Linked DNA regions of Homo sapiens: all the other regions are reported to be linked to region 1. Evidence: microRNA targets listed by miRTarBase, many of them from high-throughput screens and not tested one by one. Region 1 holds a microRNA gene; each other region holds the end of a gene's coding sequence.
What was found. The annotated mature microRNA hsa-miR-6825-5p reads UGGGGAGGUGUGGAGUCAGCAU and lies in region 1 at 1,630-1,651, shown strand. An mRNA with a match to its seed (bases 2 to 7 or 8) in the 3' UTR can be bound and repressed. Matches are read on the target gene's strand: a 7mer-m8 pairs with bases 2 to 8, a 7mer-A1 pairs with bases 2 to 7 and ends in A, and an 8mer does both.

Region 1 (4,063 bases):
CCTGGCCTGGGGTGGGCTGGGGATGCTGGTCCAGGCTGACGCTGTGCCCACTCTGCGTGCAGATCCTGTGGGAGATCACCCGCTTCTTCCTGCTGGCCATCGAGCTGAGTGTGATCATCCTGGGCCTGGCCTTTGGTGTGTGTACCGCTGGGCTCTTGGGCCCTGGCGATGCTCTCCCCTGCCCCTCCCTGGCTGTGGGCTGACTCTGGAGTGGTCACCTGGGCTGGCTCCTGCCTGCTGACCAGCATGTTTCTTCCAGGCCACCTGGAGAGTAAGTCCAGCATCAAGCGGGTGCTGGCCATCACCACAGTGCTGTCCCTGGCCTACTCTGTCACCCAGGTAAGAGGGTGAGTGTGGGCAGGGGACGCTAGGAGTCAGGGCACCAGGCACCCACTGCTTCTGGGTCTGGGTCAGGTTTCCAGTCTTTATCACCTTCAGAGTTCTCAAAACTTTGCACCTGAGAAATCACATGGGGTGCTTGTTACCGAGGCACATTCTGGGGTCCCCTGGAGATTTGGATCCAGTGGGCCAGGGCGCCAGGATGGGAGGCTCAGGACTTGCCGTTTTAATAAGGAGTTCAGGTAGGGATGGTGCAGGTCCGCAGACCCCCCTGAGAAGCATGCATCTAGAGGCCCCTTTCTTAGATTGGGGGCAGGGACTGCACCTTGTCCATCTCTGCCCCCTTCCCCATGTGACTCAGCCCAAGACTGGGCCGGCTCTGGATGCTGCAATCAGTTGGGCAGGACATGGCCAGGGAGCAGACTGGGGCAGGTGAGTTGAGGGTCAGGCCAAGAGGCTGAACTTGGTGTGGTGGAGAGCTTAGGGGGCTTTGCATCAGGGAAAGCCCCTGGGAGAGAGAAGCCTTGAGATCCTCTCCCTTCCTCCCTTCCTGCTTGCCCCTGCAGGGGACCCTGGAGATCCTGTACCCTGATGCCCATCTCTCAGCTGAGGACTTTAATATCTATGGCCATGGGGGCCGCCAGTTCTGGCTGGTCAGCTCCTGCTTCTTCTTCCTGGTGAGGTTCAGGCTGGGGCAGCTGGGGTGGCTGGGGCCTTAGGGCCAGGTAGGGATTGGATTCCTGGGTTTCTGGCTGTGGGTCTGGGCTGGCGCCCCCAGCACCTTCTCAGCCCTGCCTGTCTCTGTAGGTCTACTCTCTGGTGGTCATCCTTCCCAAGACCCCGCTGAAGGAGCGCATCTCCCTGCCTTGTGAGCAGCTGGCCGGCGGCTCTGGGACAGGCGGGGATGGGAGGGAGTCTACCGGGCCACTGTAGAGCTGGTAGCTGGGAGCTGGAGCTGTAGAGTTCCAGGCTGGGAGCTGGAGAGCCCTGGGTGAGAGGGAGGCCTAGAGGGGCCCCGGGGGACACACCAGGCTTGAGGGTAGTAGGTGCTGGAGGCAGAGCCTGGCCTGTCCAGGGTGGGACCTCACGACCCACCCTGTCCGGCCCCCAGCTCGGAGGAGCTTCTACGTGTATGCGGGCATCCTGGCACTGCTCAACCTACTGCAGGGGCTGGGGAGTGTGCTGCTGTGCTTCGACATCATCGAGGGGCTCTGGTGCGTGGGGGCCGCAGGGTGTCTGCCTCGTGGGGGCATGGGAAGTGGGCGGCAGGGTGTCCACCCGCTGGGGGCATGGGGAGGTGTGGAGTCAGCATGGGGCTAGGAGGCCCCGCGCTGACCCGCCTTCTCCGCAGCTGTGTAGATGCCACAACCTTCCTGTACTTCAGCTTCTTCGCTCCGCTCATCTACGTGGCTTTCCTCCGGGGCTTCTTCGGGTGAGTCTGTGGCCGCCGGCGCCCCCGCGTGGCTGCCGGCGGAACTGCGCCTTCTTCCAGCATGGGTGTGAGGATTGAAGCTGAGAGGCTGTGTATGCATACAGTGCGCATGCGCACGCACATACATACATGCACTTGGGCACACACATACAGATACACATGCACATGCACACAGATATACGCACACCCACCCACATGTGCATGGACACGTGCACATGCACACACGGATGCACAAGCATGCACACATGCACATGCACACACAAACACGCACATACGGATACACACGGGCATATGCACACAAACATGCACGTGCACACCCACATGCATGCATACACACATGAACACGTGCTCAACATATACATACATGTAGATATATGCACATATCCACATATACATACATATATATGCACATTGTATGTACAGTACACACAGACATACTCTCCCCACGAGAGAGAGAGTGACTATGCACGGTGTTCTACATTGCTGGTTTTTATTTAATAATATATTAACTCATTCATTCGCAAGCATTCATTGAGCACCTACTGTGTGCCAGACACTGCTAGAGCCAGAAGATGCGAGGCCCACAGCGGATGCAAATCCTGTCCTCACAAAGCTTGTACCCTGTTGGGGGAAGACTTAAGTGGGGAGCAGGTTTGGGGTGGGAAGTCAGTTGGATTCTCTGGGGGTGAGTACACTGCTGTGCACATGTGCATCTGCAGAAGCGTCTGTGAGATGGGATGCTGAAGACATGGGATTGGGGGTCCCACTCCAGACCTTAATGTGGTCGGAATGTGGGTGTTTTGTCCCCCCTTTCTCACCTGCCAGGTCTTGTGGGGAGGGGATCAGCCTCCCACCTGGGTGAAGCTGGGAGAGGGCCAGACTGGTCCATGGCCCCAGCTTGGATCTTTGCACACAATTTCTCCCCTGAGCCTCAGGCTCCTTTTTGTAAATTGGGTGTAGTGTGTCCCCCTTGGAGAGTTGCCCTGAGGGCCGAGGGACGAGGTCAGAGTGGAGTGGGTGGTAACATGAGCAGCAGGGGTCACAGGAGTGGGGGCGGAGGCCACAGCCAATGTCTCCTGAGTGCTTGGGCAGGCACTGTTGAAGCCTCATGATTTATGTCCATTCTTCCTCCACACGGTGTCCACACACCCATTTCACCATGAGGAAGCAGGCACAGATGCCCCCCGCCTGAGCTCACACAGCCAGGGGGAGGAGGGCTGGGTTCCAAAACAAGTCTAGATGGGCTCTGGGGTCCAGCTCACAGGCCCACTCAGAGTGGGTGTCAGGCGACTGTTGGTCAATTCCTTCCTTATCTGGTGGCCCCATCAGCCTGGAGAGGAAGGCTCTTCCTGAATCACTCAGTGAGGCTTCCATGCCCCTCTTTTCCTTTTATCAGCTCGGAGCCCAAGATCCTCTTCTCCTACAAATGCCAAGTGGACGAGACAGAGGAGCCAGATGTACACCTACCCCAGCCCTACGCTGTGGCCCGGCGGGAGGGCCTGGAGGCTGCAGGGGCTGCTGGGGCCTCAGCTGCCAGCTACTCGAGCACGCAGTTCGACTCTGCCGGCGGGGTGGCCTACCTGGATGACATCGCTTCCATGCCCTGCCACACTGGCAGCATCAACAGCACAGACAGCGAGCGCTGGAAGGCCATCAATGCCTGAGGGCAGCTGCCAGGGCCTGTGGAGGACAGGCCAGAGAGGAGGCCAGCAGGCCCAGAGTCCCCAGGGGAGGAGGACCAGGTCAAGGGACGTTCTGTGGGCAGTAGCCCTGTGTGGCCCTGTTCCCACCATGAGTCTGGAGGCCCCACCTCCCTGGGGCTCCCAATCCCCTTTGCCATCTCTGCTCTCACTGGGGACCCTCCTCCCCTTCCCACCTGCTCTCATACTGCTCAGTGACATGGCCCAGGCTTTCCTTCCAGGGCCATGCTTGGCAAGGTTGGCTGAGGGCACCCTCCTTCTCTGCACCCTTGGCACGAGGGCAGGGCTGGCTCTCCCAATGCCTCCATCCCATCCCCATGGTGCTTTGGCCTCCTCAAAGCATCCACCATGGTGGATGGACTGAAGTGTGTATATTTTCTTGATCTATTTTTTAATAAAAAGGAAAAGGAGCAGAAGGTGCTAATGTGGAGGTTTTGCAGGAATACTGGGGCTGGTTCCTTTCAGGAGCCTGAGGGCTGGGTGAGGGGCTGGGAGGCTCAGGGGGCCTCTGCTCAACCAAGGAGCAGTCCCCAGTGCCCAAGCCCTGGGCTGGCTGCTGGGGAGGTGAAGAGAAACAGGATCCCAGCTGCCG
Region 2 (4,061 bases), not on the chromosome of region 1:
AGGGTCCTGGGAGAGTGCACTCACCCTGGGGGAGTACAAAAAACCGTGCTGGCTTCATCCTGCGGTCTCAAGTACAGGTCAGAGGGTGCTATTTTCACCAAAGAATTAAATCATGAGTTCATCATAATACATCATCTCTCATGGTCCCCTTCCAAATCCACATCCATCCATCACCATAACAGCCCACAGCCCATAATAAGTGGGGATGGTAACCAAAATGGAGGCAGGGTACCTGCGAGGCATCCTGGGGCTGCACTGCTGATCCTCTTCTCTCTCCCCTGGCCCTGAGTGCTGCCTTCATGTGGCTCAGCCCTTCCGTCCTTCAAGCCTTCATCAGCTTCAGGGCAGCCCCGAGTCTGTGCCCAGGTACACTGGCTAAAATGCAGTGTCTTCCAAATAGCCATATCTCATTTTAATCAGGGAGCAATTCCAGCATGGAAGTCCCCATCATGCTCCTGCTGGCAGGTACAGGTGCCAGTTTGTGACGGATGAAAGCACCGACAGCCCACGCGTCTTCATCATGGAGGCCTGTGCCCCAGACTGTGCCCAGCACAACAGCTGGGCGGCAAGGGTGGGCCAGGGTCGAGCAAATGACACGTTCCCTTTGGCTAAGGAAGACACCCCAGAAGCAAAATGCTCCATGCGACAGCCAGGCATTCAGGCTACAAGCTCGGTGGCGGGGAGGCAGCCGGGAGCCTTCTCAGAGGAGAAGGGTCCCGTGATCATTCCACAGATGCTTTCAGAGCTCTGGGCTCAGGGTAACCGACCAATTATGGTGCTGCCAGAGGGCCTGCATTTACTATACACACGTCACAAAATCAGGCTTCCCCGGGAGGAGCCATCGGACTCTGTGCAGAGGGCCCATGTGACAATATAAAAGTGATTTCTGGCCGGGCGCGGTGGCTAACGCCTAATCTCAGCACTTTGGGGAGGCCGAGGCAGGTGGACGATGAGGTCAGGAGTTCGAGAGCAGCCTGGCCAGTATGGTGAAACCCCGTCTCTACTAAAATAAAATACAAAAAAGATTTAGCCAGGCGTGGTGGCACACGTCTGTAGTCCCAGCTACTGGGGAGGCTGAGGCAGGAAAATCGCTTGAACCCGGGAGATGGAGATTGCCATGAGCCGAGATCACGCCACTGCACTCCAGCCTGGGCAAAAGTGATTTCTATGCAAAGCAGGTTTTAAGAATATTGCACCAAGGAAGCCATAGCTTTGCACAACTCCATGGAATAACCAAGTTTTTTAGTGAACCACAAGAGGGAGCTGTTGGTTAACTTTGGAGAGCCCACTGGCTGATGGGTGAGGAACTGAAGGAAGCGCTCTGATGATTAAGTTTTGGCCACTGGGAAGGAGTCACTTGTTTCTAAGAGAGTCTATTTCAGGTTTTAAGAAATGAAAAGTCACAAATGACCCTGAAAATTCCTGAGATAGGGGCTCCCAGAGCCAGAGGGCTCACTAGGTTCTGGGGATTTTTGGACGTATCCACGGCTATGTCCTGGATTAGACCAGGGCAAGGCACCCTTTGACTCAGCACAGTGGGTGATAACCCCATGGACACGGGGCAGTGTCTGGAGACATCCTTGGTTGCCACGAATGGTGGGAGTGCTGGCATCTGGTGGGCAGAGACCAGGGACACTGGAACATCCTGTGATGCTCTGGGCAGCTCCTTCCCCTGAAGAATGATCTCGCCCGGTATGTTCACAGTGCTGAGGGTGACAGTCCCTAACCTCCATCAAAGGAGCAATTTTCCCTCCAGGTGGGAACGGCCTCTCCTGGCTGTGGTGAGAGGGGCTGGTCTGGAAGTTTCTCTCCAGGTGGGAAAGGCCTCTCCTGGCTGTGGTGTGAAGGGCTGGTCTGGAAGCTTCTCTCCAGGCAGGAACGGCCTCTCCTGGCTGTGGTGTGTGGGGCTGGTCTGAAAGTTTCTCTCCAGGCAGAAAAGGTCTCTCCTGGCTGTGGTGTGAGGAGCTGGCCTGAAGCTTCTCTCCAGGCGGGAAAGGCCTCTCCTGGCTGTGGTGTGAGGGGCTGGTCTGGAAGTTCCTCTCCCGGTGGGAAAGGCCTCTTCTGGCTGTAGTGAGAGGGCTGGTCTGGAAGTTTCTCTCCCGGTGGGAAAGGCCTCTCCTGGCTGTGGTGTGAGGGGCTGGTCTGGAAGTTTCTCTCCCGGTGGGAAAGGCCTCTCCTGGCGGTGGTGTGAGGGGCTGGTCTGGAAGTTTCTCTCCAGGTGAGAAAGGCCCCTCTTGGCTGTGGTATGAGGGGCTGGTCTGGAAGTTTCTCTCCAGGTGGGAAAGGCCTCTCCTGGCTGTGGTGTGAGGGGCTGGTCTGGAAGCTTCTCTCCAGGTGGTAAAGGCCTCTCCTGGCTGTGGTGAGAGGGGCTGGTCTGGAAGTTTCTGTCCAGGTGGGAAAGGCCTCTCCTGGCTGTGGTGTGTGAGAGGCTTGTCCGGAAGTTTCCAGGCGGGAAAGGCCTCTCCTGGCTGTAGTGAGAGGGCTGGTCTGGAAGTTTCTCTCCAGGCTGGAAAGGCTTCTCTTGGCTGTGGTGTGAGGGGCTGGTCTGGAAGTTTCTCTACCGGTGGGAAAGGCCTCTCCTGGCTGTGGTGAGAGGGGATGGTCTGGAAATTTCTCTCCAGGTGAGAAAGGCCCCTCTTGGCTGTGGTATGAGGGGCTGGTCTGGAAGTTTCTCTCCAGGTGGGAAAGGCCCCTCCTGGCTGTGGTGTGTGAAGGGCTGGTCTGGAAGCTTCTCTCCAGATGGGAAAGGCCTCTTCTGGGTGTGGTGAGAGGGCTGGTCTGGAAGTTTCTGGATGCTCTCAGCATCTATCAGGGAGAGCAGGTGCCCCCATGACATCTCTCTGCACGGGCAGGGTGTCTACTGTCCGGAAGAAGCCCCTCCCCAGGTGAAGTGAGGGTTGGGCCACACCCTCTTCCTCATATTCTAAGTGTCCTCAGAGAATACATTTCTGCAGGTGTCATTATGTATCTGTGTGTCCTCAGCCCCAGATGGGCCCAGACAGGCCTTTGGGCCAGGGATTCCAGAGTCTGCATCAGGGGTCCTTGGCCTGAGGCTCGGACCCCTCAAGACGTCCCTCCTTGGGGAGAAAGATCCATGAGGCATCGAGCCAGGGCTCCAAGCCAAATGAAATGCAAACTCACAGAGACGTGTTTCCAAGACGGGAATGCCTAATTTTCTCAGGTGATACTCATTTATGCTTTTAGGGCACATTTCTATTCTTTCTCTGTCCCTCTCAGAAGAGCCTAGAGATGCCGCTGTCCTCTCCGTCCTCGCTGCCTCTCAGCACTGCAGGAGGGAAGGTGGAATTCACACCCAGACCCAGGGCTTCAGGTCTTGTCCCACCGACTGGTCTTAAACTACAAGTTGCTTCTTCTCTTTAGCATCTTCTTTGAGTTCCCACTGTCCCCAGCTTCACTTTCTTGCTGACTCAGCCTTTTGCTGCTTAAAACAGAGAAGAAAGGCAGCCAGTTAGAACGCTGACTCCATGCCCATCATGATGCCATAACTTACCCAATCGGATTAAATGAAAATGCAGCCAAAGGTGATCAAAACAATTTTTACTTTGACATGGGTTGTTAAGAAACCAATAAAACCCGTTTCCCTCCTTGGGTAGGAGGTCATCCAAGTGCCATGACCACAGCCATCCCTGGTCAAAGAAGGGACTGCCCAACACTTCAGGCTGGATGCCAATGGGGTGTGGAGGTAGGTCAAGGCTCATCTGGCCAAATGAGACACAAACAGGAAGGGTAACAGCCATGTGGCACCCCTGGTATCATCATGGCTTACTGCCCACAAATTACGTTCATATCTGTCATTTCTTGAACCTTCACATTTAATGCCTCTGAGGGGACTGATGATTTTCCTGCCCTGACTTTTGGCACACAGCAGCTGAGTGCATTTACCAAACCCAGCCACAGGCAACAGGTCCGGGGCCCAGTCATACCTGAGTGAGCCTGAGGTCTGGTCCCCGGAGGCAAGGTCCTCATTGTTGGGCACCCCCAGGTCCCCTCTTTCCTGGGGCAGGGGCTTCTTCCTTTTAGTCCTTAGGGGCTTCTCTGTA
Region 3 (4,063 bases), not on the chromosome of region 1:
GCACCGTGGCTCAGTTGGTGCCTTTGCTGGGTAGTAGGTTTTCTTAGATGCAGCTGGAGTTTGCCTTAGGATTCCACATCTGACACTAAATTGTTAAAGAAAAACTTTAAACAAAATGAATTCAATAGAGTTTATTTGGGCAAAGAAGAATTCATGAACTGGGCAACACTCAAAACTGGAAAAGATTGAGAAAGTTTTTCTCTAGTAGCATAAACAGCAAGGTTTCCCAGGCTGAACAAGGGAGCAAAGTCAAGAAGTTACCTGATTGGCTTAGCTAGATGTCTACCTTATTTGGGCATGATGTAATGATAGGTGTAATGATGTCAATATTTATCTGCAGGCACTTGTAAACTTCAGAGAGACCAGAATCCCCTGAACGGATGTTAAAACCCAAGTTTTAGCCACCCCACTTCCCAAGACACTGACCAAGTAGGTGTGAGTGGGGCCAGGAAAATTGCATTTCTAACCAGCACACAGGGAATGGTGATGTTCCTGGTCCTAGGTGTTTGCCTTATTTGGGTATCTTGTGATCAGAGGTCCCTAGTTATATAACTAACTGGCTGCCTGTTTGTGGTTGATTGATGCTAGATTTTAATTTGTAAGTCAGCCATGAGAAATGCCTCCAAGTTAAGTTTTGGTTTGCTTATGAAAGAGCTCCAGGTACAAAAGCAACCTCATGATAATGACCTATTACTTGCTTTAATAGAGGACATTGTAATAATGTTTATTAAAAATTCTTAAGAAATTTTAATGAAAATATTGGGCAATAGTTTAATCTCTGAGCACATTGCCTATAAGAAAGCAATAACCATATATACACAGCGATAAATATAAAAGAAGCATTCATCATACCACTTTTCATAATACAAAAAAGTAGAAAAATTTAAACAATTAATTATGGGAACTGACTAAATATAAGCTCCAGCTCTGAGGAGCTGCAGTGCAGAGGGCCAGGCTGTCAGGGCCAGTGCAGCCTCTCTCTTCTCCAGAGGCACCGTCCTGTTGCCTGGGGTCTAGAAACTCTCCTTTTTCTTTACAATCAGGCATAGTGTTCTGACCCCTTCCCCAATTCAGCGTGCAATGAAGAAGCCATTCTCAGCCTCATCCCAATGCCCTTTGAGGTGAGTTACTTCTCACTTGTGGTTTGGTCTGCATGCACCCCGCAATGATGGCTTCTGAACCTGCACCATTCCAAGTGTGGTCTGGGTACCAGGAGCAGGTCCGTCCCAGGAGAGGTGGTGAGACATGCAAATTCCCTGGCCCTGCCCAGACCTAGTGGTTCAGATTCCTGGGGGATAGGGAGAATAAGAACTTAGGTTTAGGGTATTTAGAACTTGCCTTCAGGGTATTCTAGTCCCTTTGAAGTTCACAAGTAACTACAGATAAATGCTGAAGGCATCTTCATGGAGAAGAAACTTAAGTCTTGTCCAGAAAGAGTACTTTATTTAATTTTTAGCTGGAGGATGTGATGGTTTCTTTCTCGAGGCCAGACTGTGGACCATAGGGGTATATCCTGCTGGGAGGCAAATGCAGAAATTCAACCCTGAATTGGGTGCCCTGAGGCTGGGGAGACTGGGACATATACCTGCTCACTTCCAGTGACAGAATGTGACTCTCAGATGTGACCTTTCCCACACCTGCAGGGTGCACCTGCTCTGCTGATGGAGCTCATTTGCACAGATCAACCCCTGAGTGAAGCTGGGGGAGATACAGGTGCCTGGCGTGGGAGCTGGTAGCATGGTGTGTCTCAGGGGCACCAGGGTCCAGAGGAGCTCTTAGCATCAGAGACTGGTAACTATGGCCTGAGGCCCAAGCAGCTCACTGCCTGTTTGTGTAAATAAACACTTATTGGAACACAACCACTCTTACATGTTTGCACATTGGCTATTGCTCCTTTCAAGATACGACAGCAATTCTGAGTAGCTGAGAGAGACCATCTGCCCACAAAGGCCAGAATAGTTACTCTCTGGCTTCTTCAGAAAATTTTTTTGCCAAACCCTGGTTTAGGTGATTTGGGCAATGTCTTGGTAGCATCTAGTCTGCCCGTGCCTCTCACACTGCATCCCCTGGGGGTGTGCATTCCTGCAAATCCTGCATTTTCAGGGGATTTCTGCATCCCTGGGGATTTGTAAGAGCGCAGATGCATTTTCCAAAGGTCAGAGGCCCTGAAGTTGGACATTTCTAAGATTCTTTCAGAAGATGCTGCTGCTCCAGATGCCAGGACAGCTTTATAAGGGTGAGGCTAGAAGTCCTTCCTCTTCCCACCAACCTTCCACGAACCAGGAAAGGTGTGTGAGCCACCCCTTGAGAACAGAGGCCACATGTGCTGAGTGGGACCCAGAGGCCCTGTCTTGCTCAGTTGTGCACATTGGGTGTCCTGCAAGATCACAGACATTTTACCTCTGGCCACATGGGTCATCATCAGCCACGAGCATGGAGACAGCAGCTCAGACTTATCTTGGTTGTGCCACCTGGAAGCTGGCTTATGAGGTCTTAAGGGAGGGAGGACCCCACTGACACAGATGCAAATAGGCTGCCCTTCTGAGAGGAACTCCATCAACTGCTCAGCCCCCTCCCTCCAGAACATGGCACAGGAAGCTTCTGCAAATGCTGATGTTTAATGACCTATTCTACTTGAGGAACCTGGACAGTGAGGATTTTCTAAAATGCCAAGTCATAAAACCTCAGACACTTGCAAAATAAGAGAACAAATATGCACGGAGCTGCTCAGCCACTGATATGTCAACTCCTGGGAACAGCTGGTGTCCACGGGGGAGGGGGCAGCATGTGGCCAGGCATGTGAGTGGCTTCCACTCAGGAGAGCCCCTCTGAGCAGGTCTTGTTCAGGAGTTCAAAATATGTCTTCCAGGGCATGGTTTCAACAGTGAAGAAGCAGCTGAAGGTCCGAGGGAACAAACAGGAAGAGACAGTAGGGCGGGGTTTGGGGAGGTTCGGGAATCTTGTGGCATCTGCCCTCAACACAGGTTCCATCTCCACCTTGCCCATTCCTGGGGCCAGCAATTGTGCCACGTGGCTCTGGCCTTCAGGTCTAGCCTGAGCCTGAGGCCAATCCTGAACTACAACGTGATTTGAGGCTCCCTCCCTCCTTAGCCAGGGTCACTTGTGCCATGCCTCCTCCTCCAGCCCGTGCCCCTCAGGGGAACCCCAGGCTGTCCTGGTGTGATCCCTGCATCCAAGAGCAGCAGGAGAATGTTTTGTCCCAGTGGAAGCAGTTCCCAGACTTAGGCAATTAGTTACCTATTTGTTAATCTTACAATAAGGGGGTTGACTAAGAATGGGAAGTTTTCCCAGAGCCAGGCTTTGCTTGGAGCTCGTCCCCTAGAGCAGGTGCTGCAGCTCAGCAGGGCCTAGGAGCGAGGGCAGTGGGGCTTCTTCTCAGCCTCCACCACTTTTGGGTCTAGGGCAGGGTAGGGAAACCCTGAGAAAAGTACCCACAGACATTGTCACCATTGTCTCCAGGCTCTTTCTCTAGAAGGCAGGGAAGAAGTGGGGAGGAAGACCAGAGAGAAGGTTCTGAAGGCCATGTGGCCCAGGTGCAGGCAGCTGCAATGGTGTCAGAGGGCAGAATCAGGAAACTCAGATTGGCCAGGGGCCTGAAAGTGAACCCCTGGGCTTAATGCCTCACTGGGCTTCCCACTAAGGCACAAGCAGGGCAGCCTGGTACAGCCTGCTGTGGGCTCACTTCCCTTTGTCCCTCGGAATGGCTTTGTCAGCTGCTCCTGTGCCCACACCACACCCCATGCAGCATCCACAGCTGTGGACCTGAGGAAAGCTGATGCCCTGTCTTACGTTGTTCAGCTCCAGGCTTTCTTGAAAAGGGCAGTTGTCAATGTCATCTTCAAATTTCCTACATACGGTTTGGCGCAGTTGCAGATTCATGGAGAACACCATCTTACCTCGCCACTGTTGGACAAAAGAAGATTAAAGTGGATGCACCGTCTTCCTGCCCCTAAGTAGCTACTAGTGAAGATGCCATTTGAGTAGGAGAGGCCCCAACACTTTACTGCATTTGAGAGCTTGCCCATGGGCCTGGCATCAGCTC
Region 4 (4,063 bases), not on the chromosome of region 1:
GTGCGATCTCTGCTCACTGCAAGCTCCGCCTCTGGGGTTCATGCCATTCTCCTGCCTCAGCCTCCCGAGTAGCTGGGACTACAGGCGCCCGCTACCGCACCTGGCTAATTATTTTGTTTTTGTATTTTTGGTAGAGACAGGTTTTCACCGTGTTAGCCAGGATGGTCTCAATCTCCTGACCTCGTGATCCTCCCGCCTCGGCCTCCCGAAGTGCTGGGATGACAGGCGTGAGCCACCGTGCCCGGCCTATTTTTTATATTGTAGTAGAGACAGGGTTTCACCATGTTGTTTGGACTGGTCTCGAACTCCAGAGCTCAGACAGTCTGTCTGCCTCGGCCTCCCGAAGTGCTGGGATGACAGGCGTGAGTCCCCGTGCCCGGCCGCCATGCTCATTTTCTGTCTTCTGCCTCCCTGTCCTCTGTCCTTGCAGGTGCACAGGATCTACCGAGGGGCTGGCGGAAGCTTCCAGAAGGCACAGACGGAGTGGAACACGGGCACTTGGCGGAACCCACCGTCGAGGGAGGCCCAGTACAACAACTTCTCAGGCAACAGCCTGCCCGAGTACCCCACTGTGCCCAGCTACCCGGGCAGTGGCCAGTGGCCTTAGAGGGAGCCTGCCCTGCCCCCACCGCCCACCACCTCCTCCCCTTCATTCCTGCTGCTACCCCTGGTCCCGAGGGCTGGGAGTACCTGGGGCCCCATCCCCCCAGCTGGGATGGTGGAAGCCGGTGGTGGCCACGGACCGCCCCCCTCCTGCCAGGGCCACAGAACCCGTGTTCATCTCATCCGAGAGCGGAGTTCCTCACAAGCACTCCCCAGCAGCCCTTGGCCTCTGCCGTCCACAGGACGCCCTCTTGCTCCCGGAAACGTGTGGTCACCCGCCGTCCACTGCACGGCTGGTACGGCCTTGTCTTCAGGTCTCGAGGCCTGACTCCGGGGGACAGGTGGCAGCAGGTCGGCCGCCCTCCCGTCCTCCCAGAGCTGCTGGCGCTGAGGTCAGAGCGGGTCTGATGGGGAGCTCCGTCTCACCGGCCACCCGCCGTCACCATGGCAGATGCCCTTGGCCGGAACTAATAAGAGGCGTCGGGGCCAGCTTCCGGTCCCCTGCAGTGATAGAGGGCTTGGTGCCTAGCTGAGTCCTCGCTGTCCCCGCCATCCCCTGATCTGTGCGGCTCCAGCCTCGCCCCCTCCCCACGTGCACCATACCTGGGGAGTTCCTGGTCCAGGGTATCCTGGGGCCACCCTCCCTGCCTCCAAAACAGGGATCCCTGGCAGGCTGTCTTTCCACGCCCCTGAGTTCAGAGTCGGGGACCCAGGCCAGGTCGGGAGCACAGCCGCTCCCCAAACCCAGCAAACCGGCAGAGAGCCGGTTTCCCAGCAGCCGGAGCCCTGCAGGAGAGGCCTTTGTGTTTTGTTTTGTTTTGTTTTTTCTCTTTTGAGACAAGAGTTTCACTCTGTCGCCCAGGCTGGAGTGCAGTGGTGTGATCTCGGCTCACTGCAACCTCTGCCTCCCGTGTTCAAGCAGTTCTCCTGCCTCAGCCTCCCAAATAGCTGGGATTACAGTTGCCTGCCACCACGCCCAGCTAATTTTTATATTTTTAGTACAGATGGGGTTTCACCATGTTGGCCAGGCTGGTCTCGAACTCCTGACCTCAAGTGATCCACCCGCCTTGGCCTCCCAAAGTGCTGGGATAATAGGTGTCAGCCACCGCGCCCAGCCTGGAGTGGCCTTTTATGAGAGGGGACCCGTCAAATCTGTGCCTTATGGAGGGGTCCGGCAGCGGCCACAATTGTCTTGTCCCCTCACCCCCCAACTCCCCCTGGAACACCTCTCCCAGGCAAGACATTTTCACAGCACCATTCACAACGGTTGGGCCAAAAAGAAACTTTTCCTTCATCATTTCCTGCACTCGCTGACCACAACTTTGGACACCCCAGGCTGCCACCCCTCCCCACCCGTTCACCCCCAGGATGCTGTTGCTGTAGGACGCCTGCTGCCCTGGAGCCCTCCCCAGGATGTGAGCCAGTCCCCTCGCTGGTACGGAATGCCGCTGGGTGCCCGGAGGCGGCCATGGTGTCTCGATGGACGGCAGCCAGGATGGAGCACCCATGGGTCTCACGGCCATGCTTCAGGGTCTTCAGGTCCTGCCCCCGGCCAGTCTGCCAAGAGGCACCCCCTTCCCCAGCCTCTCGCCTGCACTGATGCAGACAAAATCTCACCTGGCAGGCCCAACCCCCCCCCACCCCTCCCCCGCCGTGTGTGGCCCCTCGCCGCATCGTTGGGGTTTTGTTATGTGAAAATATCCTGGAAATAAATACATGTTTCTGCACTTAGAGCCAGGGACCTGCCGCGTTTGTGCTGTGAGCATGTGTGGTTCCCCCAGGCCGTCTTCTCCCTTGGGAGACCCCTCAGCATATGGCCTCTGGCAGGATGCCCCCCTGCAGCGCCTCCTCCCACCCAGGCCCCGGGTGCCCTGTAGCCAGGTGTGCCCAGGGCTGACCCTGCCATCCTGGCCAACGTGGTGAAACCCGGCCTCTACTAAAAATACAAAAATTAGCCGGGCGCGGTGGCGGGTGCCTGTAGTTCTAGCTACTCAGGAGGCTGAGGCAGGAGAATTGCTTGAACCCGGGAGGCGGAGGTTGCCGTGAACCCAGATCGCGCCACTGCACTCCCCACCGGCTCAAAAAAAAAGGAAACTTGCACAGATGGAAAGCCAGTGTCACTGGCCCTACGTAAAAAGCAAACATCGGCCAGACGCAGTGGCTCACGCCTGTAATCCCAGCACGTTGGGAGGCCGAGGTGGGCGGATCATCTGAGGTCAGGGGTTCAAGACCAGTCTGGCCAACATAGTGAAACTCTGTCTCTACTGAAAACACAAAAAATTAGCTGGGCGTGGTGGCACACGCCTGTAATCCCAGCTACTCGGGAGGCTGAGGCAGGAGAATCGCTTGAACCTGGGAGGCAGAGGTTGCACTAAGCCAAGATTGCACCATTGCACTCCAGCCTGGGTGACAGAGTGAGACTCTGGAGAGAAAAAAAGGGGGGTTGTGGGGTGTGGTGGCTCACACCTGTAATACCAGCACTTTGGGAGGCCGAGGCAGGCAGATCACCCAAGGTCAGGAGTTCAAAACCAGCCTGGCCCACATGGTGAAACCCTGTCTCTACTAGAAATACAAAAATTAGCCAGGTGTGGTGGCAGGTGCCTGTAATCCCAGCTACTTGGGAGGCTGAGGCAGAAGAATCAGTTGAACCTGGGAGGCAGAGGTTGCTGTGAGCCAAGATAACGCCACTGCACTGCCACCTGGGTGACAGAGCAAGATTCTGTCTCAAAAAACAAACCCAGCCGGGCGCGGTGGCTCACGCCTGTAATCCCAGCACTTTGGGAGGCCGAGGCGGGCGGATCACGAGGTCAGGAGATCGAGACCATGCTGGCTAACACGGTGAAACCCCATCTCCACTAAAAATACAAAAAATTCTCCGGGCATGCTGGCGGGCGCCTGTATTCCCAGCTACTCGGGAGGCTGAGGCAGGAGAATGGCATCAACCTGGGCGGGGAGCTTGCAGTGAGCGGAGATCGCTCCATTGCACTCCAGTGTGGGCGACAGAGCGAGACTCTGTCTCAAAAAAAAAAAAAAAAACCAAAAAACAACAAAAGAATAAACTTACTACATGTTAATATTTTTTTTCAAATACTTTGTTTTTTGAGACCGAGTCTCACTCCGTCGCCCACACTGGAGTGCAATGGCGCGATCTCCGCTCACTGCAAGCTCCGCCTCCCGGGTTCACGCCATTCCCCTGCCTCAGCCTCCCGAGTAGCTGGGACTACAGGCGCCCGCCACCACGCCCGGCTAATTTTTTGTATTTTTAATAGAGACGGGGTTTCACTGTGTTAGCCAGGATGGTCTCGATCTCCTGACCTCGTGACCCACCCGCCTCGGCCTCCCAAAGTGCTGGGATTACAGGTGTGAGCCACGGTGCCCGGCCTCAAATACATTTTTTAAACAGGAGGATGGGTGGCATACTTTTTTAAATGTGTGCAAAACTCTTGAACATCTGGCTTCA
Region 5 (4,063 bases), not on the chromosome of region 1:
CACTTCGTTACCCCTTCCCCCCGCCGCAGCTCTGGTCCTTCCTTCCACTGGCTCTCTTCTCTGGCCTATGGAAACAACGAACTACTTTTCGCCTTTCAAGGCCCGGGTCCCAAGCCACCTCCTCTGTGAAGCCGCCAACACCCTGGTAGCTGCCTCTCAGTGTTTTGCAACTGGCACGGCCCTGTCCCTCGGTCCGCTTCTACTAGCGCTGGGGGTGCTGCGAGTCTTGCCCACTAGACTAGGAGCTCCTTGAGGGCAGGAACCGAATCTGATTCGTTTCCATTTTCCCAGCCCCCCTGCGCGGCCTGGCGCAGAAAAGACGCGCAATAAACATTTGCTGAATTGAATTGCGTTTTCTCCTTATTTTATTAATCCTTCCCCTTCCTTCTTTCATTCTTTCTTTTCCTCCTTCCTTCCTCCCTCGTTATTTTTTATTTCTTGGTTATATTCAATTGTCATGTTTTTCAGGCTCATTAAATCCATTTAGAGACAAAAGAATAAAAGGCAGAAGGGGAAGGGCGGGGGAGGAGAGAGGGGGAAGGGAGGGGAGGGGGCAGGCCGGAGAAGCAAACAAATAACCCGCTTTAACTAGACGGGCGGATAAATGGCCCCGTTTCTCCTCAGCCCCGACGCGCCTGCTTAGCTGCGCGCCCCGCGGGCGCCGCAGCTCGGGTGGGCTCAGCCCTGGGGCCGCCGCCCCCAGCCCAAAGGGACCCAGCGGGGCCAGGCCCAGGGCCGCGAAGCAGAGAGCGGCCGGAGGTGCCAGGGCCGCTTCATTGGGATTCATGAGCGTGTTGGGCGGGCGGCCTGGGGCTTCGGGCGCGGGGCGGGGGCCGAGTGGGGGGGTGCGCACGGCGGGCGCAGATGCCCGGGTGACCGACCCGCCGTGGTCCCTGCGCCGCCTTTGTGCCGAGGAGGCGCGCGCGGGGACCTAATCCATCAAATTGTCTACAAATTGTGAAGAAAATTCAAAAACCATATGGTCGCCAGCGCCGGCGCGCTCTGGGCTGCGGAGGGCCGCGGCCGTGCCCGCACCGGGAGCCGCGGGGGGCTGGGCCCGGCTATTGTCGCCTGTCAGCGGCCGCCCAGGCCCATTCGTCCCGGCCTTCATGGTCCGCGCTCCGAATTACAGACCCATCCATCCTAAGAGAGGGCAATTTTTGTCGCCCGGGAGGAACCAGCCGCACGCCTGCCCCGCTGCCCTGCCGTCTCCTTCCTTCTCTGCTCCTTCTCTCTCTTCTCCTCTCTTCCCATTCTTTTTTTCTCCCTCTGTCTCTGTCTCCCTTTCTCCGTTTCTCTGTTTCTCTCTCTTTTTCCTCTTTTTCTCCGTCCTGTCTCTGTGGCTCTCCGCTTTCTCTCTCTGCTTTTGGAGTGTCTTTCTGTGCTCCTATTTTTTTTTCCTGTTTCTCTCTGTCTCTTCGTTTCCTCCTGGACACGCACGTTCCTGGCTCGGGCCCGGGGGCCCCATCGCCGCCCGAGACCAGATGCGCATTTCTCACATCAATTTTGCGGAGAAAGAGAGCCCAGCGGCCCGGAGGCGGGACCCCACTCCGGTGACAGCGGCTACTCGCCAGCCCAGCGACAACAAAAGCCCGGAGAGAAACCCGCTCTGTCCAGGAAAGTGAAAGCGGCCTCAGCCCCCGCCCCAGCCGGCCTTGGGGCGCCGCAGACCCGAGAGAGTCCTTGCAAGATCCATACCTCTGCCCCCAGCGGTGTGCCGGGGTGTGGAGGCAGAATTGGTTAATGTTGCCAGAAATTCACACCAGCTCCCAGACGCTTGGGCTTACAGTTCCAGGTGCCCACATTGAAATTCAGCCTGGCCTTGATGCCTTTAGCCTTTGGCCCCCGACTCCCCAAGGATGAGGCCCTCGGGGCTAGAATCGAAACTTGGGAACCCAAGGCTCCACCCCGCGTCTGACTGAGTGATACCTGCAGCGCTCCCGGGGCTCAGCCCTGTTTTCGGGGAGTGCAGGGAGAATGCCCTTGGGTCTGGGGTGGGATGCAGGAAATGCAGGGCAAGACCCCCTCCCACCCTTTGTTCAACACAAATTAATGTTGTACTGTGGTGTGCCCCCACATACACAGGCATTTTCTCCCAGCATTTCACGGCTCGTTTTTTACCCCGACCTGGCGAAGCCCGCTTCTCTCCCGATTTAGCAGCTGCCTCAGGTTTATGGGCAAGAGGCGCCTCCTCCTGCTGCTTCCCCCTCGCCCTTCACTCTTAAGCCTGTCCTGAAAATCCCCCCCAAATCTCCAAGGCTAGGGCGACCGGCACGAAGAGCGGCAAGAAGCCCAGCCTGCCGCTGCTTCTCGGAAACGGGCCCACCACTCAGACACGGTCGCCGCCGGTTCTAGTAAAATGGCAAAGACTTTATTTATTGGAGAAAGAGGCCTTGGGTACAGTCTAGGGAGGAGAGGGGAAGGGAGGAGCAGGGAAGGGGCACTCGCAGCCCACTCACATCCAGCCACCCTCCTCTGGCCAAGTCGGGTAGGAGTGGGGTGTTCGAAGTGGCAAGAGAGACCCAGAGCTGTGGAGGAGGTGAGGTGAGGGCTTGGGTCGGCCTCCTCTCTGTCTCTGTCACATGCAAAAAAATTCTAAAAAGAGTACAAAATAATTATAGGGCTTTGGGTTCTGTTTTCGATAGTTGGTTGGTTGGATTTCCCCCTGCATTGTCCCTAAGAGCCGGACTCCAACAGTCAGTCCGAGGAAATGCGGGAGGGAGGGAGGAATCTTAAAAACAGCATTAGTGGGCATTAGGAGGCAGAAATGGCATCGAAAACAGACTTTTCTCTCAGAGGGTGGGGAGGAAAGATCGATTTTGAAACTTGCAAGTCAGGACCTGACTGCCCACCTCTTCCCCTCCCACATGAGGAAAAAAGGCCCGAGGAAATAGAAGTCAACTGCAATAAGGCCGAGGGAGGCGAGGAAGGAGCGGGCCGGTGCATTCGCCACATGCAGAGAAAAATCAAAACAGCCGGAGCTGCCACTCCCCTAGACCGCAGGGTTAGTGTTCCCCGCCCTGGTTTCTGTCTCGCCCTCAGCAAACCCGGCAGCCCGAGAGCTTTGAAAACATCGAAATCTCCGAGATTTAAAAAATAATAATAAAAGAAAGGAAAAATCAGGCTGCGGTGGGAAGAACCCGCTATATAGGTTTAAATATTTATATAGAAGCCATACAGAATTGCACGGCGAGGGCTTCCGGGGCGGCGGAGGCCGCTGGTGGCGGCCGGCCCGGCCGGCCAGCCTGGGTTTATTGCTTCGAGAGGGAAGAGGCGGCTGCCAGGAGCCGAGTCCGGGGCCGGGGACAGGGGAGGAGGCGGGAGTTGGCAGAGGAGGTCCCAGCTCCCCTCGGCGGTCCGGTCCGGGAGGCGTTGGGCTTTCGAGCGCTAGGAGCCCAGGGCGGCGGAAGACCCGGGGCGCCGCTCAATCGTCCACGTCGATCTCTTCGTCTTCCTCGTCCTCCGAGCAGTCCTGGCTGCTGGCCGGCTGGTCCGTGAGCGGAGAGGCAGGCGAGAGCTGCAGGGCGCCAGCGCCCGGGGCCTTCGGGGCGCCTGGGGGGAGGACCGGAGAGCCGGGCCTCGACTTGGCCCTGCCGCAGCCGCCGCCACCGCCGGCTGTGGCCTCCGAGTTCTGCTCGAGTTCGGCCAGCGCCACGATGTCCATCTGCCCGCTGGGGCCCAGTTTCTTGGCGGACTCTACGTCGGCCTTCATCTCCTCCAGGTCCCGCTTGAGCTTAGCGCGCCGATTCTGGAACCAGGTGATGACTTGCGCGTTGGTGAGGCCCAGCTGCTGCGCGATTTGGTCGCGATCGGCGGGGGACAGGTACTTCTGGTATAGAAAGCGCTTTTCCAATTCATAGATCTGGTGGTTGGTGAAGGCCGTGCGCGACTTTCGCCGCTTCTTAGGGGTCTGCCGCTGCCCAAAGATGGTCATACCGTCGCGGCCTGGGAGGAAAGGACAGTGTAGGCTCGCGTTGGGAGAGAGGAAGCCCACCCTGGCTCTCGCCCCCGTAACTCCGTAACCCACCCAGGCCTGTCCGGCCTGCAGTCTACCAATGTTCCC
Region 6 (4,063 bases), not on the chromosome of region 1:
CCCAGGTGTTCACGGACACCCTCTGGTGGCCGTGGGGAGGACAAACCGTGAGGAGACCAGGGCCAAGGTGATTGCACTGGTTCAGGTGAGTCGTGAGGAGGCTAGACCGTCGCGGTGGAAGCCCTTACAGCAGGGAAAGGCGGCCAGATCCTGGATCTATTTTGAAGGTAGAGCCCAAGGAGGTTTCAGATGGGCCAGATGTGGGTGGTGAGACACACAGTGGGGTCCAGGGTGACTCCCCAAGGATTTTGGCCTTGCAGGATGGAACTGCCCTCGACCGAGGAGGGGGCATGGCAAGAGCAGCCTGCGGGTGGGAGGGACGCCCGGGAGGGTCGGGGTCCCAAAGGCACCAAAAGGATGGTGCTGCTTCTGGGCACGTGTGTGTGCTGGGGGTGGGGCGTGTAATTTAAAAGCCTAATGCGAGTGTGTCCGTCAGAGAGAGGGGTGAGGCTGCGAGTGTAGACCCCATATTCTAGACATTTTGCTCCAGAGGGGCAGAAAACCAGGCAGGAGCTGGAGGGGTGCGAGAGTCCCGGGAGTGATGTTTGTGGGGCGTCCGGTAGGATGGGAGGATGGGTCGGGCAGGATTGGGGGTGCACGAGGGAGGCTGCCCTCGAGTAAAGCCGGGAATTTGCCGCCCAGGTTGGGGAGGGGTCTGGCGTGAGCCGGCGCCGGCCGCGCGATACGAGAGGCCGACCACCCCCTTCCCCGGGCGGGCAGCAGGCGAAGCCCCAGGGCTCAGCAGGTGTGTAGGAGTGGCCTGCCCGGCCCCATCCCAGCCCCGCCGGCCTCCAGGCTCTGGGGAGCGCTGGAGTCCACAGTGGTTTTTTCCTGGGGAGGGCCTCAAAGCTCTCACCGCCCCCTCTTCCCTATTCCCACTAGGGGAGCTGGCATACAGTAGGCGCTCAATACAGGAGCACAGGAGCCTGGGAGGCGGCCGGGGGACCCTCCGTGGAGGAGCCTGTCCCGCGCCGGCGAGCAGCCCCGGGGGCGCAGGCTCCCCCATCCCCTGCGGCACCGGAAGGGGCGGGCGGTGGACGCCCCCGGGCGCCCTGTCACTGTGCCTCGGTTGCCAGGCAACGGGGCGGGCGGGAAGCTGGGCGGGGGGCGCAGCTGCGCCAGGCGTGGGTGACACCCGGCGGGCGCAGCGCGCGCTGCTGCAGGCAGCCCCCTCCGCGGGGCTTAGGGCTAGGGGCAGGGCATTTTGTGTCTCAGCCAGAGGGGCCTGGCCAAGACCCCCTTCACTAGCCCGCTGCCTCGGTTTCCCCACGAGGTGGATGAACTTGGGACCACACTGGTGGGTGGGACAGAGGGATTCAGAGCGTGCCCACAGGTGGGGACTGCCACGGGAGAGACCACACACACGCTGGAGTAGGGTTTAAAAAGGGGCTTGTTTAATTAATTAAATACAAGGATGAGGCCAGGCAGGGCGGGGGAGGGGCGCCACCCACGGAAAGCACACGCCTCTCGGAGCCGCCTCCCCTGCAAACGGCTGGAACCAGGTCCCAGTGATCAGCGACTCCTGGGAGAGTGGAGGGGTGGGCGCAGGTCTCTCCAAGCCCCTGGACACTGGAGAGGGGCCCAGTTATAGAGTTCTGGAACCCACAGCCCTACCTACCCCTGCTCCAGACAGGCCCCTGCCAGGGCTGGGGCCAACCAAGACTCACAAAGGAAAACGGGGCCCCAGTCCCCCACCCACCCCCACAGACTAAGGCATCTCACTAGCGCTGCCAGAAGAGGGTTTGAGGCTAGGGACAGAGAACACAGAGAGCCGAGGGCTGGATGGGGCAGGACCCTCCGAGCCCAGCTCCAGAAGGGCGTCCCCTGCCTCCCTCCCCCCAGGATCCCAGGCACCCATCCCTGGATCCTGCCAGGCCGGGGCTGGGTCCAGGTGCACACCAGTGCCATCCAAAGCCCCCCTGTCCCCAAGCGAGAGGCAGGACGGTTCTGGAACAAAAGGGGGTACCAAAAACCTCCTGCAGCCAACAGTGGGGGGATCCACCTTTCTGGGTCTGACATGGAACCGGGGACCCTTCTCATTCCAGGCTGGGGGTCCTCAATACCCCCCCCAAGAGGAAATGCAACCCAGGCCACAGCAGGACGACCGCTGACAAGGACACAAAGGTGGCCCCCGAGGAACAAGTCCCCACCCCACCCAAGTTCAGCTCAGAGACCCCCCACACACACTCACACCCCCTGAGGATGCCGGACCACCCATGGGGGCCCAGAAAAAAAGGAATCCGTGCCTGAAAAAATATTCTACCCGGTGCAAAAAAAACGAGCTACCCCAGGAGGCTGCACAGCCAGCCCTCTGCTTCCAGTCCACGAGGCAAGACCTCAACCACGGGCCAGGACCCACCTCTTCCAAGCACCCAGGAGAAGGAGGGGAGGCCAGGGAAGCAGGGCCGGGCCAGGCTGCAGCCCAGGCCCGGAAGAGCCTGCAACCCCGGCGGGCATGGGCTCCACGGCCCCACCTGCAGGCCAGGGAGGGCAGCGCAGCCCAACAGCCGCAGTCGTCGTTAAGGGAGAGTTGATTGTCACGTGATACCGCAACGGCCAAAGTCAGCAAGGCAGGGACTGGAGGCCCAAGCCCGGTGCCAGCCTCCCCTGCAGCCTCTCTCACCCACCCACCCAGAGAGGGCGAGCTAGGGCCCCCACACCCGAGGACAGAGGAAAATAAATAAGCCAGGATTCCCTCCCGACCCCACTGAGTCAAATGTTCTTTGGAAGAACCCAGAGGTCCCCTCCCTCCCCATCCCAGGTCTCAGAAGCAACACCTGGAGCCCCTCCGGGCATCCTAACGCTGCCCCACTCCTGGCTCTACCCCCGAGGTCTGGGGGGCCAGGCAGCCCCTACCGTGGGCAGAACTTGTGGACACCTGAGATTGAGTACCCGAATGGGGGGTGGCTGGGCTGCACCCCCATTTCCCTGAACTACTCCCATGGCTTTCGGTGGGGTGGGGGTGGGGTGGGGAGAGGCAGGGGCCGTGTCAACCCCCGACTCCTCTATGGCTGTCTGAACACTTCATCCCAATCTGCAGGGATGGGGCAGGGGGTGCTTTCCCCGGGCCGGCTCCCAGAAGTCCACTCCACCCCCCCAAACCCCACCCCGGGAGGGGGGCAGCAGGGGGTGGTGGAGAGGAGAGGGGAGGACCTCCTAGCTGCCCTGGGGGGGCCCCGTTGCACAGATGGGAAGAAAGTTAGTATCATGGCTATTTACAGACACAAGCCCCCGTCACCCATCCTGAGAGCCACCTCTGAGGTCAGGCAGACCCAGGTCCAGTCTCAGGCCCCCTCCTCACTCTCTGGAGGGGGGCAGGGGTGTCTTCAGGGTTTGCCCACGGCTGGAAGGGGCCCAGGCTCCCCGTGGGTCCTCACTACACCCCTGGATGGCAGAAGCATCCTGGCGGTCAGGGTGGGCTGCACGAGGGCCCTACAGGCCTGCGGGGGCTGGGCTGGGCGCGGGGCTGGGCGCAGGGCTCCCGGCCAGGCTGCAGGGCAGCGAGTCGCTGGGGGAGGTACTGCGGGCACCAGGGCGCCGGAGCAGGTCCGGGTGGAAGCCGGGGTGGCGGCGGGCGTGCTTGGCCAGGTGGTCACTGCGGGTGAAGCGCTTGGAGCACAGAGGGCAGGAGAAGCGCTTCTCGCCCGTGTGCGTCCGGTGGTGGCGGGCCAGCTCGTCGGAGCGGGCGAACTTCTTGTCGCAGCCCTGCCAGTCACAAGCAAAAGGGCGTTCCCCTGGACGGAGAGACAGAGACAGACAGCGGGTCAGCGGGGGCGGGGGGAGATGACAGACACGTTCCAGCAGATCCCAAAGGGTGGCGGGCATTTGTCCCGTGCCGTTTTAGAGGCTGAGCTCTGGTGTGAGTTCAAAACATGGAGAAGCACAAAGAATACAACCCTTACCCGCCCCCCGGTGGCCCAACACGAGACCCTAATAAATAATCCTCTTATTTCCTACCAGCTCTTAGAAAGGACTCTCCGGCGAGCCCAGAATCTGTTAACCGTAAGTAACCGCCGCAGACCCCCAAGGCTGAAGCTCCCCAGGCCCTCGCAGCCTCTGGCCC
Region 7 (4,063 bases), not on the chromosome of region 1:
CTGTCCAGTGAAAAATGATTTCTTCTTGGTATCAACTATGAAAACACCAAGAACCATGCATACATCAGTTATGGCTCTCGATAGATTATTTGTCATAGGTGGAAAAACTAGAGGATCCCGGGACATTAAAAGTCTCTTAGATGTTGAATCTTACAATCCTCTTTCCAAAGAATGGATATCTGTTAGCCCATTACCCAGAGGCATATACTATCCAGAAGCAAGCACATGCCAAAATGTAATTTATGTTCTTGGATCAGAGGTAGAGATTACAGATGCTTTTAACCCATCACTTGATTGCTTTTTTAAATACAATGCTACAACTGATCAGTGGTCTGAACTAGTAGCAGAGTTTGGGCAATTTTTTCATGCAACATTAATTAAAGCTGTACCAGTAAACTGTACACTGTATATATGTGACCTTTCCACCTATAAGGTTTATAGTTTTTGTCCAGACACTTGTGTTTGGAAAGGCGAAGGATCTTTTGAGTGTGCAGGCTTTAATGCAGGTGCAATTGGAATTGAAGATAAAATTTATATATTAGGTGGTGATTATGCACCAGATGAAATCACAGATGAAGTGCAGGTCTACCACAGCAACAGGTCTGAATGGGAAGAAGTTTCACCAATGCCTAGAGCCTTAACAGAATTTTACTGCCAGGTGATTCAGTTTAATAAATACAGAGACCCATGGTTTTCTAATCTATGTGCTTGAACATTCTAAAACGAGTCCAGTTCTAGTAACCTAAAGTAAATTTGTTAACCAAAATGATAGGTAAAAAGATCTATACATCTTAATGAAATAAAACATTCCTGCTTTTAGTTATTATGTATGTACACCATATATGAATAAACAGTTTCCAAAAACTTAAAATACAAAATATATTTTACCAAAAATTATACTGAATATAATTTAACCTTGGGGAATCCAGAATACTTAGTATTTTCACATGAAACTACAAATCATAGACTCTGACACTTTGATTTTTAAAGTACTCTGTCCATAAAAGATTTGTACTGTTTAGATGGGAGAAACCTCTAGAGAGAGTAAAAATGAATTACACTGTATCTTATATGAAGTAAAAAATAAATCAGAGGTGAGAATATTGTTACTGCGGGTATGAGTTGTTGAATTCCTATCATTTGTGATGATTGGTTAACTTCTTTTAGGTACCCTTTTTACCCTTTTTTAGTTCAGAAATAATTCTCCCAGCTTTATAAATAGTACACTAAACATAGTTTAACTTTTTTTAATGACTCATTTTTTCATTAAAAGCATAATGTACCATGTTATAATGCCATTAGCAGTTACTTAAATGCTTTAAAAATTGCTGATTAGTTTTCAATGTCAGTTGGTTTCAATTTCTAGCTCTCTCTCTCTCTCTCCTCCCCCCCTCTCATTTTCTGGTTCAATCTTAGTAAATTAACATTCTGGATTTAATTAGTAGTTCTAAGTTACACCTGGCCTGAGTTTATGTTAACATGTAACCCTCAATTGGAAATTTTTGGATTCTGGGATGGCAGTACTAAAATACTTTTTATGTATCATTGCTAGGTTCCAGCCTAATTAAGGACATAGAAAATTGACCTCTAATTAAGTGGATCATTATTATGGCATTTCTTAAGCTTTATCCAAATTTCAGCTACATAAAACATTTCAGGATTTAAATTAGTACCATATCAATTTTCTGTGATGATGTATACCAACTATAAAGCACTATGTTGGTTTACTACTTCAGTAAATTATTCTTAGTGAATTATTTTCTAAATTAAAAAAAATGACTTGGCTTTTGGTATTGATAATAGTATTCACAACCTGCATCTGTTAAGATGTTTGATCTTTAACCCACACAATGTAAGGGTACTGTTGTCATTGTTCTCAGGTAGGTGATTCTGCCTTCCAAGAGTATATGTTTCTTTAATCAGTTTAAAAGATAAAGGCATTTTGGGTTTTAAGACCCCTGCTTTACATCTCAGGTAATGTGTAGATTGTACTTCTCTGGAACCAAATGTAGTTTTCTACACTCAGTTGTAAATGTTAATCTTTCTCAAATGTGCACATTCTTTAAAAGTGTGTTCCTAAGTAGAAATACACCTAAATGAAGATTCTCTTATTTTATCATATAAATTTATGCAACGATAAGTTCCAAATGTATTTTTCAAAACAGAATGGAATATCAGAGTACATTTTCATGAAGTTTAAAAATCAAGGACTGTTCCTGATTAGATGACGTATTTATTGGTGGCCTTCTTATCTAAGCACATGAGTAGTTGGCTCTGAACTTTGTGTATTTGAAAAAGGAAAATTCAGTGGAGGCTTTTGTTTGTGTGTGTGTGGCTTTGAAAACAAATTATTTGAGAAAGACCATAACACAGTGAGTAGCCTATATGTGCATTTACTGAATTGTTAATTTAAGGATATATATTAATAGAGTATGTTTAAAATAAATATTGTTTTCATCACTGACTTTAGGAATTGTTCATCTATTTCAGAAAGGAGAAACCCAAAATCAAATCCCTTTTTGATATTACTTCATTGTTGTATCATCTTCTTGATTTCCACTACTGTTCTGATTGGCCTTTGCTTTATGCTAATGTTTCCAGAAACATTCTTGTTATCAAAGCCTAGGTGGCTTCCTCTGCATTTGATTTAATACATTTTCTAATGCAGAAGGTTTTCTGCCCTAGTTTTTTCTTTTTAAATAATTACCGTGGGTTACTTTTTAATCATTTTCAGTGATTGCCATCCCTTTACTTCTGTACCTTTGTTCTCTCCACCAATTATCACTGCAAGGAAAATACTCTGTCTAATCAAAAACCTCCTACTCTTTATTTACTGTTTTTTTTTTCCTGATCACCATAGCAATCTATGCTAGACTCTGCTCCGCTAACTCCTCTCCTTTCATATTTGGCCTCTCCTTATAAAGATAGCACTTTCATTTGATCCATCTGCCTTATGGGAAAATGGTTTTGTGTCTTCAAAGCCCTCAAGGAACTCAACCACACAGGAGCAATGACTAAAGTCTGGTTATATCCTCTGGTCTTGTTAATGACTGTGGCTTCACTGTCTAAGAACCATATATATTATTCTGGCCTCACCCTCCTTTCTGGATTTCTGACCTGCAAATCTCAGTGATCCCTCAAGTCTATTCTCAGTACCTCCAGAAGGAGCTGTTTTTTCTGTCTGTGAGGTTAGGTAAGAGAAAATAACATCCTTTTATGGGCTCTTCCCTTAGTGTTTTTAAAAGTCTGTTTTCCTTTCATTATATCCGTCAGCCAATGCTACAGTGCAAGAGACAAAATAATTACGCTTATTATTCAGATTGCTATCATTCCTGTGGAAAAATTCTATTTAACGTTTCTAAATCCATTATCTTTGTCATGCTCCACTACATTTGCATTATGCATGCCAAAAATATTTTAATATTGTAATGTCTTCTAAAATTTAAAGTAGGTATACAGCATTATTAAATACAAAAAAGAGTATGTTTAAAACATGAGATCAATTCAAAGTTAATGGACATTCCTAAAATGTGGAGCAACTTTTGTTCATCTACACCCTTTGAAACTAAGTAGTATGAGGAATATTTGCATAATCAAAGCTAACTACTTTCCCATAATCAGCTCTGGTCTGGGGAGTGGAGGAGGTCATTATCACAGCAATATTCATTACGTGCTACCCTTGAAAGCTAGATTAATATTCAAGAGCGACCACATGCTGCAATATGATTCTGTATTTCTCAGATACCAAGAAGAGCAATTGAATATATGTTCAATGTGCTTATTAGCTCAAGGTATACCATTTGAAAATCAGAATTAAGCACAGAGGGATATATCTGTTTACATTTTGAGATTTGAATGCAATAAATATTATAATGTAATGATTAAGTAGTTGAATATATAATGTTACTTTAAGATCATCATGCTCAGTTTAATTGGATCTAGTGTTGTGGAAATTCTTATTTAGAATTGAAAGTATAAATCTCAAAAATGTTCTCTGAGGGGGCAGCTCTGAATGGCAACCTAAACACAAAGGCTGAAAATTATAGGGAGCTTATTTCTGTCC

Region 2: miRTarBase lists EVC as a target of hsa-miR-6825-5p. Seed matches in the 3' UTR shown: 7mer-A1 at 3,080-3,086, 8mer at 1,067-1,074, 8mer at 926-933 and 7mer-m8 at 679-685.
Region 3: miRTarBase lists CST9 as a target of hsa-miR-6825-5p. Seed matches in the 3' UTR shown: 8mer at 3,509-3,516, 8mer at 2,943-2,950 and 7mer-m8 at 2,772-2,778.
Region 4: the mRNA of SCAMP4 is a reported target of hsa-miR-6825-5p. Seed matches in the 3' UTR shown: 7mer-m8 at 642-648, 7mer-A1 at 812-818, 8mer at 1,187-1,194, 7mer-A1 at 1,338-1,344, 8mer at 1,948-1,955, 8mer at 2,007-2,014 and 1 more.
Region 5: the mRNA of LBX1 is a reported target of hsa-miR-6825-5p. Seed matches in the 3' UTR shown: 7mer-m8 at 3,309-3,315.
Region 6: miRTarBase lists KLF16 as a target of hsa-miR-6825-5p. Seed matches in the 3' UTR shown: 7mer-m8 at 3,145-3,151, 7mer-A1 at 2,969-2,975, 7mer-m8 at 2,385-2,391 and 7mer-m8 at 1,433-1,439.
Region 7: miRTarBase lists KBTBD3 as a target of hsa-miR-6825-5p. Seed matches in the 3' UTR shown: 7mer-m8 at 1,383-1,389.

The regions. Positions count from the first base shown.
Region 1 is chr3:127,572,893-127,576,955 of GRCh38, reverse strand. It overlaps MIR6825 (microRNA 6825), which reads left to right and starts at 1,625; the gene lies at 1,625-1,690. It overlaps TPRA1 (transmembrane protein adipocyte associated 1), which reads left to right. Exons shown (of 11, transcript NM_001136053.4): 5 at 63-135; 6 at 260-339; 7 at 906-1,016; 8 at 1,147-1,207; 9 at 1,451-1,553; 10 at 1,691-1,771; 11 at 3,168-4,063. The coding sequence ends at 3,435. RefSeq lists enhancers at 921-1,499, 1,500-2,079 and a silencer at 1,467-1,646.
Region 2 is chr4:5,810,334-5,814,394 of GRCh38, reverse strand. It overlaps EVC (EvC ciliary complex subunit 1), which reads right to left. Exons shown (of 21, transcript NM_153717.3): 20 at 3,945-4,056; 21 at 90-3,442. The coding sequence ends at 3,358. Among named protein-coding and RNA genes, the nearest start is that of CRMP1, 81 kb to the left of the region's middle. RefSeq lists an enhancer at 1,364-1,413.
Region 3 is chr20:23,599,811-23,603,873 of GRCh38, forward strand. It overlaps CST9 (cystatin 9), which reads right to left. Exons shown (of 2, transcript NM_001008693.3): 2 at 2,600-3,924. The coding sequence ends at 3,700. Among named protein-coding and RNA genes, the nearest start is that of CST9, 4.1 kb to the right of the region's middle. RefSeq lists an enhancer at 2,556-3,057.
Region 4 is chr19:1,923,678-1,927,740 of GRCh38, forward strand. SCAMP4 (secretory carrier membrane protein 4) reads left to right here. Exons shown (of 7, transcript NM_079834.4): 7 at 431-2,336. The coding sequence ends at 607. Among named protein-coding and RNA genes, the nearest start is that of CSNK1G2, 15 kb to the right of the region's middle.
Region 5 is chr10:101,223,846-101,227,908 of GRCh38, forward strand. It overlaps LBX1 (ladybird homeobox 1), which reads right to left. Exons shown (of 2, transcript NM_006562.5): 2 at 3,149-3,945. The coding sequence ends at 3,425. LOC124902491 (a long non-coding RNA gene) reads left to right here. Exons shown (of 2, transcript XR_007062267.1): 2 at 1-347. Among named protein-coding and RNA genes, the nearest start is that of LBX1, 3.6 kb to the right of the region's middle. RefSeq lists an enhancer at 2,269-2,770.
Region 6 is chr19:1,851,027-1,855,089 of GRCh38, forward strand. KLF16 (KLF transcription factor 16) reads right to left here. Exons shown (of 2, transcript NM_031918.4): 2 at 1,373-3,734. The coding sequence ends at 3,433. Among named protein-coding and RNA genes, the nearest start is that of REXO1, 4.6 kb to the left of the region's middle. RefSeq lists enhancers at 2,915-3,471, 3,472-4,029, 4,030-4,063.
Region 7 is chr11:106,049,499-106,053,561 of GRCh38, reverse strand. It overlaps KBTBD3 (kelch repeat and BTB domain containing 3), which reads left to right. Exons shown (of 4, transcript NM_198439.3): 4 at 1-2,464. The coding sequence ends at 712. Among named protein-coding and RNA genes, the nearest start is that of KBTBD3, 26 kb to the left of the region's middle.